Regions from separate parts of the Homo sapiens genome. Here all the other regions are reported to be linked to region 4. The links are microRNA targets in miRTarBase. Many come from high-throughput screens and were not tested one by one. Region 4 holds a microRNA gene; each other region holds the end of a gene's coding sequence. Distances are from middle to middle.

Region 1 (3,148 bases), 84 Mb from region 4:
TGTTTCAGATTTCAGACTTTTTTTTGGATTTCGGATATTTACAGATACCTAATGAGGTATCTTGGGCATGGACCCAAGTCTAAACATGAAATTCATGTTTCATATATAACTACACACACTGCCTGAAGGTAATTTTATACAATATTTTTAGTAGTTTGTGCATGAAACAAAGTTTGTGTTAAGTACTTGTATGTGGAATTTTCTACTTGTAGTATCAGGTCAGCATTCAGAAAGTTTCAGATTTTGGAGCAATTTGGATTCTGGATTTTTGGATTAGGAATGCTCAACCTGTATTAGCTTCTTTTTAGTTAAGTTGACTATGTTTGAGATTCCCAGCTTTTCACAATGACAAATACCTCCCATTTAAAACTGCATGCAAATACATACTTTAAATTTATGCATTTGAAAAAAAAGCGACTTTCCTCTGTGCTGGGGTTGCTGTTGGCTCTAGTGCCAAATAATCAGAATTAATTCTTAGTAATTATGTTGCTTTGCTCACTTAGCATAATTTCTTCAATGGAGTACTGAATAGCTATATGCTGAATGGACGAAAAGCAGGGAAGGACGAGGAAAGGAGGAACAGAAGGAGTCTGTCCGAGGGTTGTGGTTACAATGCCATGGAGGAATAGGAGGAGTCTGTCCGAGGGTTGTGGTTACAATGCCATGGAGGAATAGGAGTCTGTCCGAGGGTTGTGGTTACAATGCCATGGAGGAATAGGAGGAGTCTGTCCGAGGGTTGTGGTTACAATGCCATGGAGGAATAGGAGGAGTCTGTCCGAGGGTTGTGGTTACAATGCCATGGAGGAATAGGAGGAGTCTGTCCGAGGGTTGTGGTTACAATGCCATGGAGGAGTAGGAGGAGTCTGTCCGAGGGTTGTGGTTACAATGCCATGGAGGAGTAGGAGGAGTCTGTCCGAGGGTTGTGGTTACAATGCCATGGAGGAGTAGGAGGAGTCTGTCCGAGGGTTGTGGTTACAATGCCATGGAGGAATAGGAGGAGTCTGTCCGAGGGTTGTGGTTACAATGCCATGGAGGAATAGGAGGAGTCTGTCCGAGGGTTGTGGTTAGAATGCCATAGGACTTCATTAGCTTGAGAGAAAGAATGGGCATCGCCTATCATTCATGAATATATTTTTTCTTTTTTCTTTTCATATTCTTGTTAAACCTCATCTAGCCATTAAAAATTACTAAATGGGGCTGGTAAGCTCTAGTACCAGTGTAAAATTGCTTCTGGGGACCGGAATCTATGTAGTAACAGGAGGAGTGTCAAATGCAGAAGGTAAAGGATATTTAAAGCGAAGGCAATCTTCCAGCTTCTGTGGACTGAGTCTTACTTAAAAGTGGTACAGTGGACGCTACTGGATAGGCTCTACACCAAACTTATACCTTGCTATTAGTACACAATTCAGACCATCCTTCTTAAACATAAAACCATTTTCAGATGTTAGAAATTCTTCTGCAACAATTTCTTAACCCATTTTAAAAAACTGCATACCCGTCTTTACCAGAATTTCTTTTTATCTTCATCGGTCACAAAGGAATAGTTGTGTTTTTGTTGTTTCACAGTTGTCTTAAGTATTATCTAAAACAATACAATTATTTTTTTTCTGTTTGCATGTCTTCCATGTTTTTACAGGGCAGAGTATTTTACTCTCTCGGCTTCCACATTTTTTCATGTCATTATTAAACTCATGGAGAATACAACCAGAAGCTGAGCTCTGAAGAGGGATGAATACAGAGGGCTACCAGCACAGTGATAGCAGTTCTGGAAGCTGGGCTCTGAGGAGGGATGAATAGAGGGCTACCAGCACACTGACAGCAGTTCTGCCGTAAACTGCCACATAGCTGGCAAAAAGGGCAAGCACGGTTAAATCATAAGATTTAATGAAACATTATTTAAAAAAATTCTTTAGAACAATGGGAACAGTGAATTAAGTTTACTATATACCAGCCATTAATTTTTTTTTTTTTAAGATACAGGGTCTAACTCTATCGTGCAGGCTGGAATACAGTGGTGCAATCATAGCTCACTGCAGCCTTGAACTCCTGGGCTCAAGCGATCCTCCTGCCTCAGCCTCCCAAGTAGCTGGAACCATGCCTGGCTGCCATTAAATTTAAAATAGGTATAATAATGATATGTAGAAATCCCAATTCCATTATTTTCTATAACTCAAAGGACAATTTATACTTTTGAGGACAAGATCTCCAATTCTAATCTTGCAATAATTGGCTGTTGTTTAAGTGACTGCAGTATATGGATGATGAACTTTCCCATTGTTGTATGTTAATAAAAATGTTGAGGTATGTAATCACTCTGAAAATTCCACCCATTATCCTATTTTCAAAGGAAAACTTTGGGAAGATTACAAACCCTGAAAAATGAAGACTTGGTGGCTTGCAGTTCCTTCTCCTTCTCCAAGATGAGGTGGTTGGGTTGCTGAAGAAGGTGGTTGGTTTGCTGATGAAGGTGGTTGGGTTGCAGATGAAGGTGTTGAGTTGCTGATGAAAGTGGTTGGGTTGCAGATGAAAGTGGTTGGTTTGCTGATGAGGTGGTTGGGTTGCTGATGAAGGTGGCTGGGTTGCTGATGAGGTGGTTGGGTTGCTGATGAAGGTGGCTGGGTTGCTGACGAGGTGGTTGGGTTGCTGACGAGGTGGTTGGGTTGCTGACGAGGTGGTTGGGTTGCTGATGAAGGTGGTTGGGTTGCTGATGAAGGTGGTTGGGTTGCTGATGAGGACAGGCTGCTGTGAAGTTCTGCTTCAAGGTCTGATGGTCGTCAATTCTTCCAAGCCAAAGCCAGGAATGCCACTTCTACCATCTGCATAGGTTGGCACTCACTCAAACTTTGTGCTTTGTTCACAAGAACATAACATAAAAGAATATCTTGAAGATCCACTTTTCCATTCCTAGTGCCATATACACAGAAGAAATCCAGCCAGCAGAGGAAACAGATTGCCTAGCAGAAGCCAGAGGGTGACCACCAGGCTCGAGGAACAGGAACAAAGATCTAGAGTTGAAAACAAAAAACTGACTTTCTATAAACAATTTTGGGATAAATCATACCAATTAAATATTGACAGATGAAGAGCAGTGATTATTAAAAAGTAAACAAGGACCACCTTGAGAGCTAAATCAAGAGCAAAACCCAGG
Region 2 (3,154 bases), not on the chromosome of region 4:
CGCATCCCAGGTGGGACGAAGCGGGATGGCACGAGATTTCATCACAGTAGTTAAACCAATGTGCAACTTAAAACTTACACATTGTTTGTTTCTGGAATTTTCCACTTAATATTTTTGGATCGCACTTGACTGAGAGTAACTAAAACCAAAGAAAATGAAACCACGGACTGGGGAGACTAACTGTATTACTCTCACTTTGTATATGAGGACGCAGAACCACAGAGAGGTTAAGACACCTGCCTAAGGCTGCACAGACAGGAGGTGGCACAGCCAGGATATGAATCAGGCAGCCAGGCTCCAGGGTTCATGCTGTCAATCACCCTGCTCTGCTGCCTGTCAGGAAGGGACCTTGGCCAGTGCCTGCTCCTCCCTTAACCTCCCGTCTCTACCCCGGCAGGTGGTAGGCAGCTCCCTCCTCTTCGTGCACGACCACACCGGCCTGGCCAAGGTCTGGATGATAGACTTCGGCAAGACGGTGGCCTTGCCCGACCACCAGACGCTCAGCCACAGGCTGCCCTGGGCTGAGGGCAACCGTGAGGACGGCTACCTCTGGGGCCTGGACAACATGATCTGCCTCCTGCAGGGGCTGGCACAGAGCTGAGCTGCTCAGCCACCATCAGGTTAATTGGATGGCGCCAGTCTGGCTGGAGGAGCCCTGAGATGCCATGGGAGGCCTGAGGTTGGCCACGGGGGAGCTGGCCTCCAGGGACGGGAGAGATTGTGTCATGTGCCACACGAGACCAACGTGGAAAAGTCTGAAGGGCCTTGGGAGACCAGGTAGCACCTGGCCCCATCATGATGCAGGGGTTTTGGGGACCTGGAAGGAAGGTGATGAGGCAGTGAGTCAGAAAAACCAGAACGGGGTCCCCGGATCTGCCGGGAAGGCTTCTGAGGGGCTGCCCTGAGAGCATTCAGTTCACATGTCACAGGGTATGGTGTGACAGGGTGCCTGTGGACACATGAATCACTTCTAACCTGCCTCCCTGTCAGCCTCCAGGCTGCCAGCTGGCTGAGGCCAGGGACTGGGTCAGGCTCATCTGTGGCGCCTCAGAGGGTCAGCATCATTGGTGAACAGATGCAGGCGCTGCTGGACCATCTGGGGAGAGTGACAGTCCATGTCTTCACCAGGGAGCCATTTGAGTGCTGAGCGACAAGAGGCTCAGAGGGCATGACCCCATGGGACTGGATGCGGCCTGAGGGCTGATACCGCTGGGCGGTATCCTGCCCTGCTGTGGCCCTGTGGGATCCTCCGTGTTCCTCGGCGGACTCTGCTGACCTCCTGCAGACCCAAACCACAGCCACATCCCAGCTTCTGTGCCAGCACTGTGACAGTACCTCGCTCCTCTGTGCACCAGATCCGGCCTCAGGACTTACACCTCCTGCCTGACCCCCAGGCTTCTCTCTCCTTTCTCCCAGCAAACTGCAGTGGCAGAAAGGAGGTTCAGAGGCTGGGAAAGTGGGCCTCCCCTTGCAACTCAGAGCTGCTGCACTCAGGAGGGCCCCATCCAATCCCGGGCCCCTGCAGGGAAAAGCGCTGGGTGTGTGTCAGAGGCGCAGGGTGGGTGGGGCTGCCAGCCAGGACCCTGGCCTGCAGCCTGATCCAAACCAAAGACTGTAGAACCCTGGGGTGTGGCTAACGGCCCCTCCAGCACCCATAGCCAGGTCTTCCTGGCCCTTGAGGCTGGGCTGGCGGACAGGCACCTACCTCTTCCTTAAGCTGAAGCTCCCACACTGTCTTCCAGGGCTGAGGAGATGCTCTCCTTTTCTACTGACCATCTTGATACTTATTTATACGAGAGGCAGTTGCTGGACGGGGTAGTACTGGGAAGCAGGAGGCAGAATGGCTCTGCTGAGCCTCCTACCCATGACAACACCCCAATAAACAGAACATTCAGAGCCAATGTCGTAGAGCTTTTTATTTTGCATCTGGAGTGTATTTGGACACGTGGGCTGGGTGGGGTAACAGGATAATGAGCAGTTTGGGAAAGAGGCAGGCTCCAAGCAGGCTGGTTCACTCACTTGGCAGTCACTGGGCGGCTATTCTTGTGCCTGGATGTGTTACAATGCAGGGGACACAGTGGTGAGCAAGGCTGCTCCAAGCCCTGGCTGGGATGGGGGATGCACAGACAGGCTGATCAGGGCTGGGATGGTGGACACGCATCCTCTTTACCCTGATCACTGGTTAGAAATACTGCACTGTGGCCGGGCTCAGTGGCTCACACCTGTAATCCCAGCACTTTGGGAGGCCGAGGCGGGTGGATTACTCAAGGTCAGGAGTTCGAGACCAGCCTGGCCAACATGGCAAAGCCCCGTCTCTACTAAAAATACAAAAAATTAGCCAGGCATGGTGGTGCATGCCTGTAATCCCAGTTACTTGGGGGGCTGAGGCAGGAGAATCACTTGAACCTGGGAAGTGGAGGCTGGAGTGAGCTGAGATCACGCCACCGCACTCCAGCCTGGACGACAGAACGAGACTCCATCTAAAAAAAAAAAAAGCAACAGTGCTCTGTAGTTTCCCTAAATGAGATGGGCTCAGTTAGGGACAGAGAAGTGATCCAGACAGGCCTGTTCCTCCTTCAGAGTGGAGGGGTCAGGTATTCATGAAGCTAGTAATCACACACACTCACTAGAAGTTTGTATAAGTGGACAGGAAAGTTTGTGGTCAGCACCATAATGTTCAGGGAGCCAGGAGACAGCCTGGCTGAGATACTGACTACCTAGCTTGAATCCTGACCTTGCCATGTGCTAGTCATGTGACCTCAGGCCAGTGATTCCACTTCTCCAGGCCTCAGTCTTGCCATCTGTCAAATCGGGTCCATCTAGCACCCCCCTTACAGGGTTGCCAGATCTGCTAACACAGGTAGAGGGGCTGGCACAGGTAACTGCTCCCAGATGGGCTTTAAAACTGTGAAGACATGAGGTGGGGGAGGGGTGTCTTGACTGGGGCTGCAGGACTCTTCCCTGAGGTAGTGATACCTGAGCCCCAATGGAAAAGTTAAGGAGTGATCCGCAGCAGAGGGCTGGGGGTGGGACTCAATGATCCGGGGATTTGAACAACACTTCAGGGATCTAAAAGGCCAGTATGACTAGTAGGTGGCAAGCATGAGGAAGACCTTGGGCTAAGGAGGGGTGAGCTGAGGCTGACGCAGTTCAG
Region 3 (3,000 bases), not on the chromosome of region 4:
GCTGCAGCTACAGCAGATGTCCCAAAGAGCTGGCTGTAGTGGATCTCAAAGTAGGCCAGGCCCTTCTTCTCATAGTGCCAGGGCCCCAGGAATGGCTTCTCACACTCAGGGAAAAGAGCTCTGCATGCCACCACTCTTTGCCCAGTGTATTCACTATGTGGCCTTTGATGGGCTGGCTGCAGTCCCTAGAAATGGGGACAGCATCTTGTCAATGCAGGGCAGGCAGTAGAGTTCACCCTTCAGCTCATGGGCCTCACCAGTCAGCTCCTTCCTACAGTGGATGCAGCTGAAGTGGCCTGGGTGACAGGCACTGTTCCTGAACATGAGGGACTGCTCATGAATGACCAAGTGGCACTGCTGAGGTGCCAGACACTTGTGCCAGTCCCTTGGCCTTCTCATGGTGTGGCAAGGCTGGCAGAGATGCCTATAAACCAGGGGTGGTACTATGCATCTTGTAGGGATGTGGCTGGTCAGCAGCTTCTCGTCAATACAGGCCACAGAGCCTGTAATTGTGCCTGGTTCTCAGCAAGTGGGTCTTTAAATAAATAAAGCTACTTACAGTGACCTGTTTGGAAAAACAATACAGCCAGTTTGAAGTATATATTAAATTCAAATTTTTTTAAAAAGAAAAGAAAGCTAATCTATTTGATCTATTTCACAATAACAACCTTCAACTTCTGAAAATAATAAAGTCACATTCAAGTAGACTTGTAAAACAATTTTAATGTTTACTCAAAATAAATGAGATGTCATCATTAGCCCTTATCTCTCACACTTGAAAAATGGAGACAGTTGTTCAGAATAGAAAGGGAAACAGCTATTAGAGTTTAAGCTCAAGTTTCAAGAAGAATTCAGATAAGGCAGGTAAAAACTCTAGATACTTTTCCACTGTCCAACATCACCAAATATTAATTTCCACATACCTCTTTATTTCATAAAAATATAAATATTTATTAGAAATAGTATGTTTAAGATTAGTTTTTCTTTCTAAATAACATGATTTCTTGCTTTAAAGGAAGATTCCCTAATAGTGCCACCTATTTCATAAACTGTCCTGCAGTTTTGTGCTTTTTAAAAATTCTAATTTACTTTGATTTAAAGAATAAATATCTCATACCCATGGTGAACTATTTTATCACCCCAAAATACAAATGATCCGTATTTTACAATGAAGAAATTCATAGCATCTACCACCACATCACTGTACTATGATTGGACTGACTGAAGTATGGGCCTGTGAATATAGATTGAAAAATAAAAAAGAAATGCTAAAAAAAAAAAACTTAGCTACATAATGTTTAATATCAAAACTCACCAGACAATCCAATTTTAAAGAAACTGATGGAAAAATGCTTCCCCTAACATGAACTATGGTTAGATAGCATTGTCTGTCAGGAAATTCACCAATTCAGTAGCTGATCTTTATGTGGAAACAAAAATAGGGCTTTGTCCTTATTCATAAGTACAGGGAAGAGACCACACCTTTACTTAAAAAAAGAAAAAAAAACCTAGATTAAATGTGACCAGGTAGCCCCCAAATGTATAGTAAACCACCAACTAGCCCCTGGCTCCATAATGGCCATATATTGTATTCTTCCAGTTATTTCTGACAACTCGGAGAAAAACATTACAACCTTAATAATAATTTAAAAAAATCTAAAAATCAAACAAAACAACAGGACCCTGTGGTGATGAATTTTGTTCGTACCAAAAGTATAGTCAGAAATTCTGAAAAAAGACAAAATGCTTGCATACAATGACAGTGCAATCAGCATCCAGGCCAGGTCCTGTGTACACAACCTCTCCAATGCAGTGTAAGTTTCCTCTTAGCAGCCACCAACAATGAGCTCAAACGTAGTGAATCTGTAATGTGGCTGGTTTTCTAACACTATAAATATTAATAAGAGTGGCTAGTGCTATTATTTACATCTGTTGGCCGAATATTACTCTTGAGAAATAAACACTGGACTTTTTCTTAACAAGTGGTTTCTCATTGACAAGTTCTGGTCATTAGTGAACTAGAATGAATCTTAGCTCACTTCCTTGTTTTGCAGGACATTTAACTCCTTGCTTCTTTTAAAAACTCCAGTGGTTTTTAGGCAGCCACTACAATAAATTCTCCCCCCTTTTTCAATTTACTTCCCTTTCTTTTCCCTAAGGTAGAACTTCTGTAAACCTAAAAACATATGGTAATTTAATATACAAGGTTTCTCAAAGTGCAAAATATGTTACAGATAGTTTCTTAGGCTTCATTTAAACACAGCATTTTATACAATACAGTACAGTTTGAGATTTCTGCTCATAAATTATACCACTTAACAGACAACTACTTTAAAAGGACTGACCACCTAAGTAACCCAATGTCTTCTTACACACGTTAATACAATGGAACTTTACAAGGTTTGTTCAGACCAAAATAAAGTTAATCTTACATTCAGTCACATATATACATATTTTTAAATGCTCCTTAAATGCCTAAGCATAGACAAATTTGCCTATCAATAGGCAAATTCTTATGAATTATCTTATAGTTCAGTTTTGGAGTTACACATAAAGATTGCATACAATATTAAAAAAATAATCTGGGGAGCAATTCATTTTATTTCCTACTTCAAAATCTGCTCATCCTGTAATTCTTTTGGAAGGGTTCTTGACCGTTGTAGAACCACATTAAGTTCTTCAATTACCCTTGATGGTAACTTATGATCAGAGTCCAAAGTAGCTTTGCTATTCCTGTCCTCAGTCTTCCTCAATGTCTTTAGGCCTTTATGGCCTTTTGGTTGCCCAAGTGGGGCTTCAGGCTCTGTGTCCTCCAGGCAGTTGAAACTCCGATGTTTTCGGGGTCGATTTCGAAGTTTATCGTCCTTGTGCTCCAGGCAGTGGGCCACCATGGAAGCTCTCTCCTTTAAGCTAGAGTCCACGGACTCTTTATCACACTTTTCACTGAGCCGCAGCCTTTCAAGTTCTGCTCTTGCACTCTAAAAATAAAATTAAATGTCT
Region 4 (3,154 bases):
TAATTGTTCATACCTGTCCTATCCCAAAGCTGATTTGTGAACAACAGTAAGAATGTATTGTGCCAACTCTGATACATGGTTTACTTTTTCCCAAACTAAGATGGAGGCTTTCTTAAGTGTCTAGAAAACTGAAATACTTGACCCTAGCAAGTATAATAAAGAGTATAATAACTTGGGGGAATCCAGAGTAATTGACTATCCAGCAATTGTACTATGCCTTTTCCTCCACTCTGAGAGTTTGAACAAAAGAATTCAATGACCTGATCTTTTTAACAAAATTAAAAATTTAAATGTCCTCATTTTTGAAAAACCTAAACTCAGTGCTCATAGGTTATTTGGCATAGAGCAAGAATTTGGTTAAAGAGGAATATGAAGTGGAACTTGGTTTTTAAGTCATACATAGCAGATGTTTAGGTGTGTGTTTTCCACACTTAAATGAGGCCACAGAATCTTAGAAAGACTTTAACTCACCCCCTACCCCCCTCCAGCAGGATCATTGCTCCCTTTGCTGGAGAGTTTGCTTTTTTCTTTTTAATGTTTGTCTTCCTTAATGTCAGCATGCCTGTTTTTCCAGCCACCCAAGCACTTTGTTTTATAAACATTCAGCTGTCAATATAAAAGACTATAAAAGAACACCTGCTCTCGTGGCTTTAAAGTGCTAAATGCTCCTCTCCCTTTTAGTCGTCAGATGTTTAAATGAATTTGTCTGCTCTCTGGATGTCATCTTTTTTCCTACAGGAAAAAAGTTTTGTGCCTCCAAGTTTTGTGATTAGTTTAGGCCTAGTTGAACTTAGGCCTACATCCAATCGATTGAATCCCATTGGGTAGCCTCTGAATGGTTAGTCTGTTATTTTTTATAGTATGAGTGAAGTCTTTTTATTATAATAATATTTATTGAAGGAATTCTGCATTCAGAAGGGTCTGTTGAACATTGAAGCATAAGTGGACAAAGCTGGGACTTGAGCCAGATCATTGTCCAGGTTCAGGGAGGCTCTGAAAATTAGCTAAGAGCTGGAGGTACCCTTCTGATGGTAAGCGGAAACAAATGAGTGACCAAAAAGAGTAAAGATGCATCATTGAGATTCATGTGGCTGTAGGTAACCACAGCAACAAGAAAAAAAAAATCTCAAACCTGCTTAATCAAGAAAGAGACTCCTAGCTCTGGAAGTAGAGCCAAAAGATGTACTTCAGGATTGATGAGTCCAGTGGCTCTGGTCCATTTCCCTGCCATTCCCTTGGCTTCAATTTACTCCCAGGGCTGGCAGTGACATGGGTCAAGGCTCACACCTTCACCTGGCAGCACCAGAGGGAAGGACCTTTTAAGAAGCCCTCAGCAACTTCTTGTGTTTCATTGGCCTAGAGTGAATCATACACTTATTGTTAAACCAGTCACTGCAAAGAACAGATTTACCTACACATCAGATAAACCTACTTTCAGAATTAAGATTAGGTCCTCTTCTCTAAGACCAGAGTTTCTCAAACTCAATATTATTGACATCATAGGCCAGATAATTCTTTGTTGTTGGGGGCTATTCTGTATCTTATAGGATGTTTAATAGCATCCTTCACTTCCGTGCACTAGATTCTAGGAGTTGCCCCTCCTTGGGACAACTAAAAATGCCTCCAGGCTTGGTGCAGTTGCTCATGCCTGTAATCCCAGCATTTGGGGAGGCCGAGGTTGGAGGATTGTTTGGGCCTAGGAGTTCGAGACCAGCCTAGGCAACATAGTAAGACTTCGTCTTCATAAAAACAAAAAATAAACAAAATTAGGTGGGCGTGGTGGTGTGCACCTGTGCTCCAGCTACTTCGGAGGCTGCTATGGGAGGATCGCTTGAGCCCAGGATGTTGGGGCTGCAGTGAGCTGAGATCGCACCACTGCACTCCAACTTAGGTGACAGAGCAAGACCGTGTCTCAAAAAAAAAAAAAGCCTCCAGACATTGCCAAATGTCTTTTTGGGGGCAAAACTCTTTCCCCACATCCCCCTGTTTGAGAACCATGGACCTAAACACATGAAGACACCTAAATAACACACCAGCTTAGGTAAGAAGTAGGGAATAGGAATATTCACCACACAAAAGTCTTGAAATAGGAAGAAAATAAGGAACCTTTGTAAGGTAGAGAGGCCACAGGGAATGATGGCATCACCCCCAATGTCATGACCACTGGTGAGTCAAGACCTAGATGCTTAAACCAAGAGCAGAAGACAAGCACTGCCCAAGGGAAGAACCAGTGACTTTTTTAGGCATCTCAAACAGAGCATAGAGAAATCAACCAGGAGCAAGAGACAGAGGCAAGTAAGGACCATATCTGGAAGCTAGTGACAGACATTCAGGGAAGAAACAAGGATACAGAAATGTCTTTCTCTCCCAAGGCCAGGATCAGCATGACCATGGGGCACAGGAAGTTCGATGGAGCTCAGAGTTACAGGAAATGCCTTGGGTGCTTATATCCAGAGAAAATGCTAGAAGCAGCTTCTTAAAGGGGAAGAGGATCCCACTAGACTTAATACGGTCTCTGCCCACATCATTGTGGAGCTAGATATCTGTGGAACTTAGCCTAAGGCTTTCACCTTAGACGTGACTGAAGTGGAAGAAATGGAATCAGGTCCCTACAGGTTGCCAAATTGGTGGCAGCTCTGTTGGAGTTAGGAAGGATGCACTCAGAAAATCTGTGCGCTACTCTGCATTTGTTTTTCTTTGATATGCCTGAAGTGATTTAATTAAGCTGTATGTGAAAATCTCCATGTTAGCTCCAACTATAATAAAAAGCAAAAAAATGTATTTCATACTTCATGGGATGAAGAAGAAGATTAGACCCTGGAGCCTGGGTGAGATGGAAATACTGTTGGCAAAGAGCTGCTCCAGGGGACTTGAAGGGACTTTTTTACTGTACTATGAATGACTGGACCCTGTATTGTCTAATTATCCTTAATACCAAAGACAGGGCATCTGTGAGAATCTGAGAGGTACTAAGAAAGGCTCTGTGCTCTAAAACCATTTCCTCCACTGGCTTTATCAGAGAGAAACCCCACATTTCACATCATTGTTAAAGAGCCTCTACAGAAATTCAGTTACCAGCTGAGAAAAATAATGAAGCCTCCCCAACAGGCCTCTGGGACCCCTTGAGTTGCCACCAGGAACTGGGGTACAACAG

What was found. The annotated mature microRNA hsa-miR-4446-5p reads AUUUCCCUGCCAUUCCCUUGGC and lies in region 4 at 1,219-1,240, shown strand. An mRNA with a match to its seed (bases 2 to 7 or 8) in the 3' UTR can be bound and repressed. Matches are read on the target gene's strand: a 7mer-m8 pairs with bases 2 to 8, a 7mer-A1 pairs with bases 2 to 7 and ends in A, and an 8mer does both.
Region 1: the mRNA of LMLN is a reported target of hsa-miR-4446-5p. The part of its 3' UTR that is shown has no 7-base or 8-base seed match.
Region 2: miRTarBase lists ITPKC as a target of hsa-miR-4446-5p. Seed matches in the 3' UTR shown: 8mer at 1,524-1,531.
Region 3: the mRNA of ARAP2 is a reported target of hsa-miR-4446-5p. Seed matches in the 3' UTR shown: 8mer at 2,149-2,156.

What each region holds. Positions count from the first base shown.
Region 1 is chr3:198,038,424-198,041,571 of GRCh38, reverse strand. It overlaps LMLN (leishmanolysin like peptidase), which reads right to left. Exons shown (of 17, transcript NM_001136049.3): 17 at 1-3,005. The coding sequence ends at 2,905. LMLN-AS1 (LMLN antisense RNA 1) reads left to right here and starts at 2,105. Exons shown (of 4, transcript NR_046669.1): 1 at 2,105-2,123; 2 at 2,348-2,425; 3 at 2,714-2,824; 4 at 2,909-3,148.
Region 2 is chr19:40,738,960-40,742,113 of GRCh38, forward strand. ITPKC (inositol-trisphosphate 3-kinase C) reads left to right here. Exons shown (of 7, transcript NM_025194.3): 7 at 398-1,901. The coding sequence ends at 601. It overlaps ACTMAP (actin maturation protease), which reads right to left. Exons shown (of 6, transcript NM_198476.5): 6 at 1,902-3,154. Among named protein-coding and RNA genes, the nearest start is that of ACTMAP, 9.9 kb to the right of the region's middle.
Region 3 is chr4:36,065,301-36,068,300 of GRCh38, forward strand. It overlaps ARAP2 (ArfGAP with RhoGAP domain, ankyrin repeat and PH domain 2), which reads right to left. Exons shown (of 33, transcript NM_015230.4): 33 at 704-2,978. The coding sequence ends at 2,607. It also overlaps the pseudogene LOC651644. Among named protein-coding and RNA genes, the nearest start is that of ARAP2, 180 kb to the right of the region's middle.
Region 4 is chr3:113,593,665-113,596,818 of GRCh38, forward strand. It overlaps MIR4446 (microRNA 4446), which reads left to right and starts at 1,212; the gene lies at 1,212-1,278. The region is part of intron 10 of SIDT1 (SID1 transmembrane family member 1); the gene reads left to right.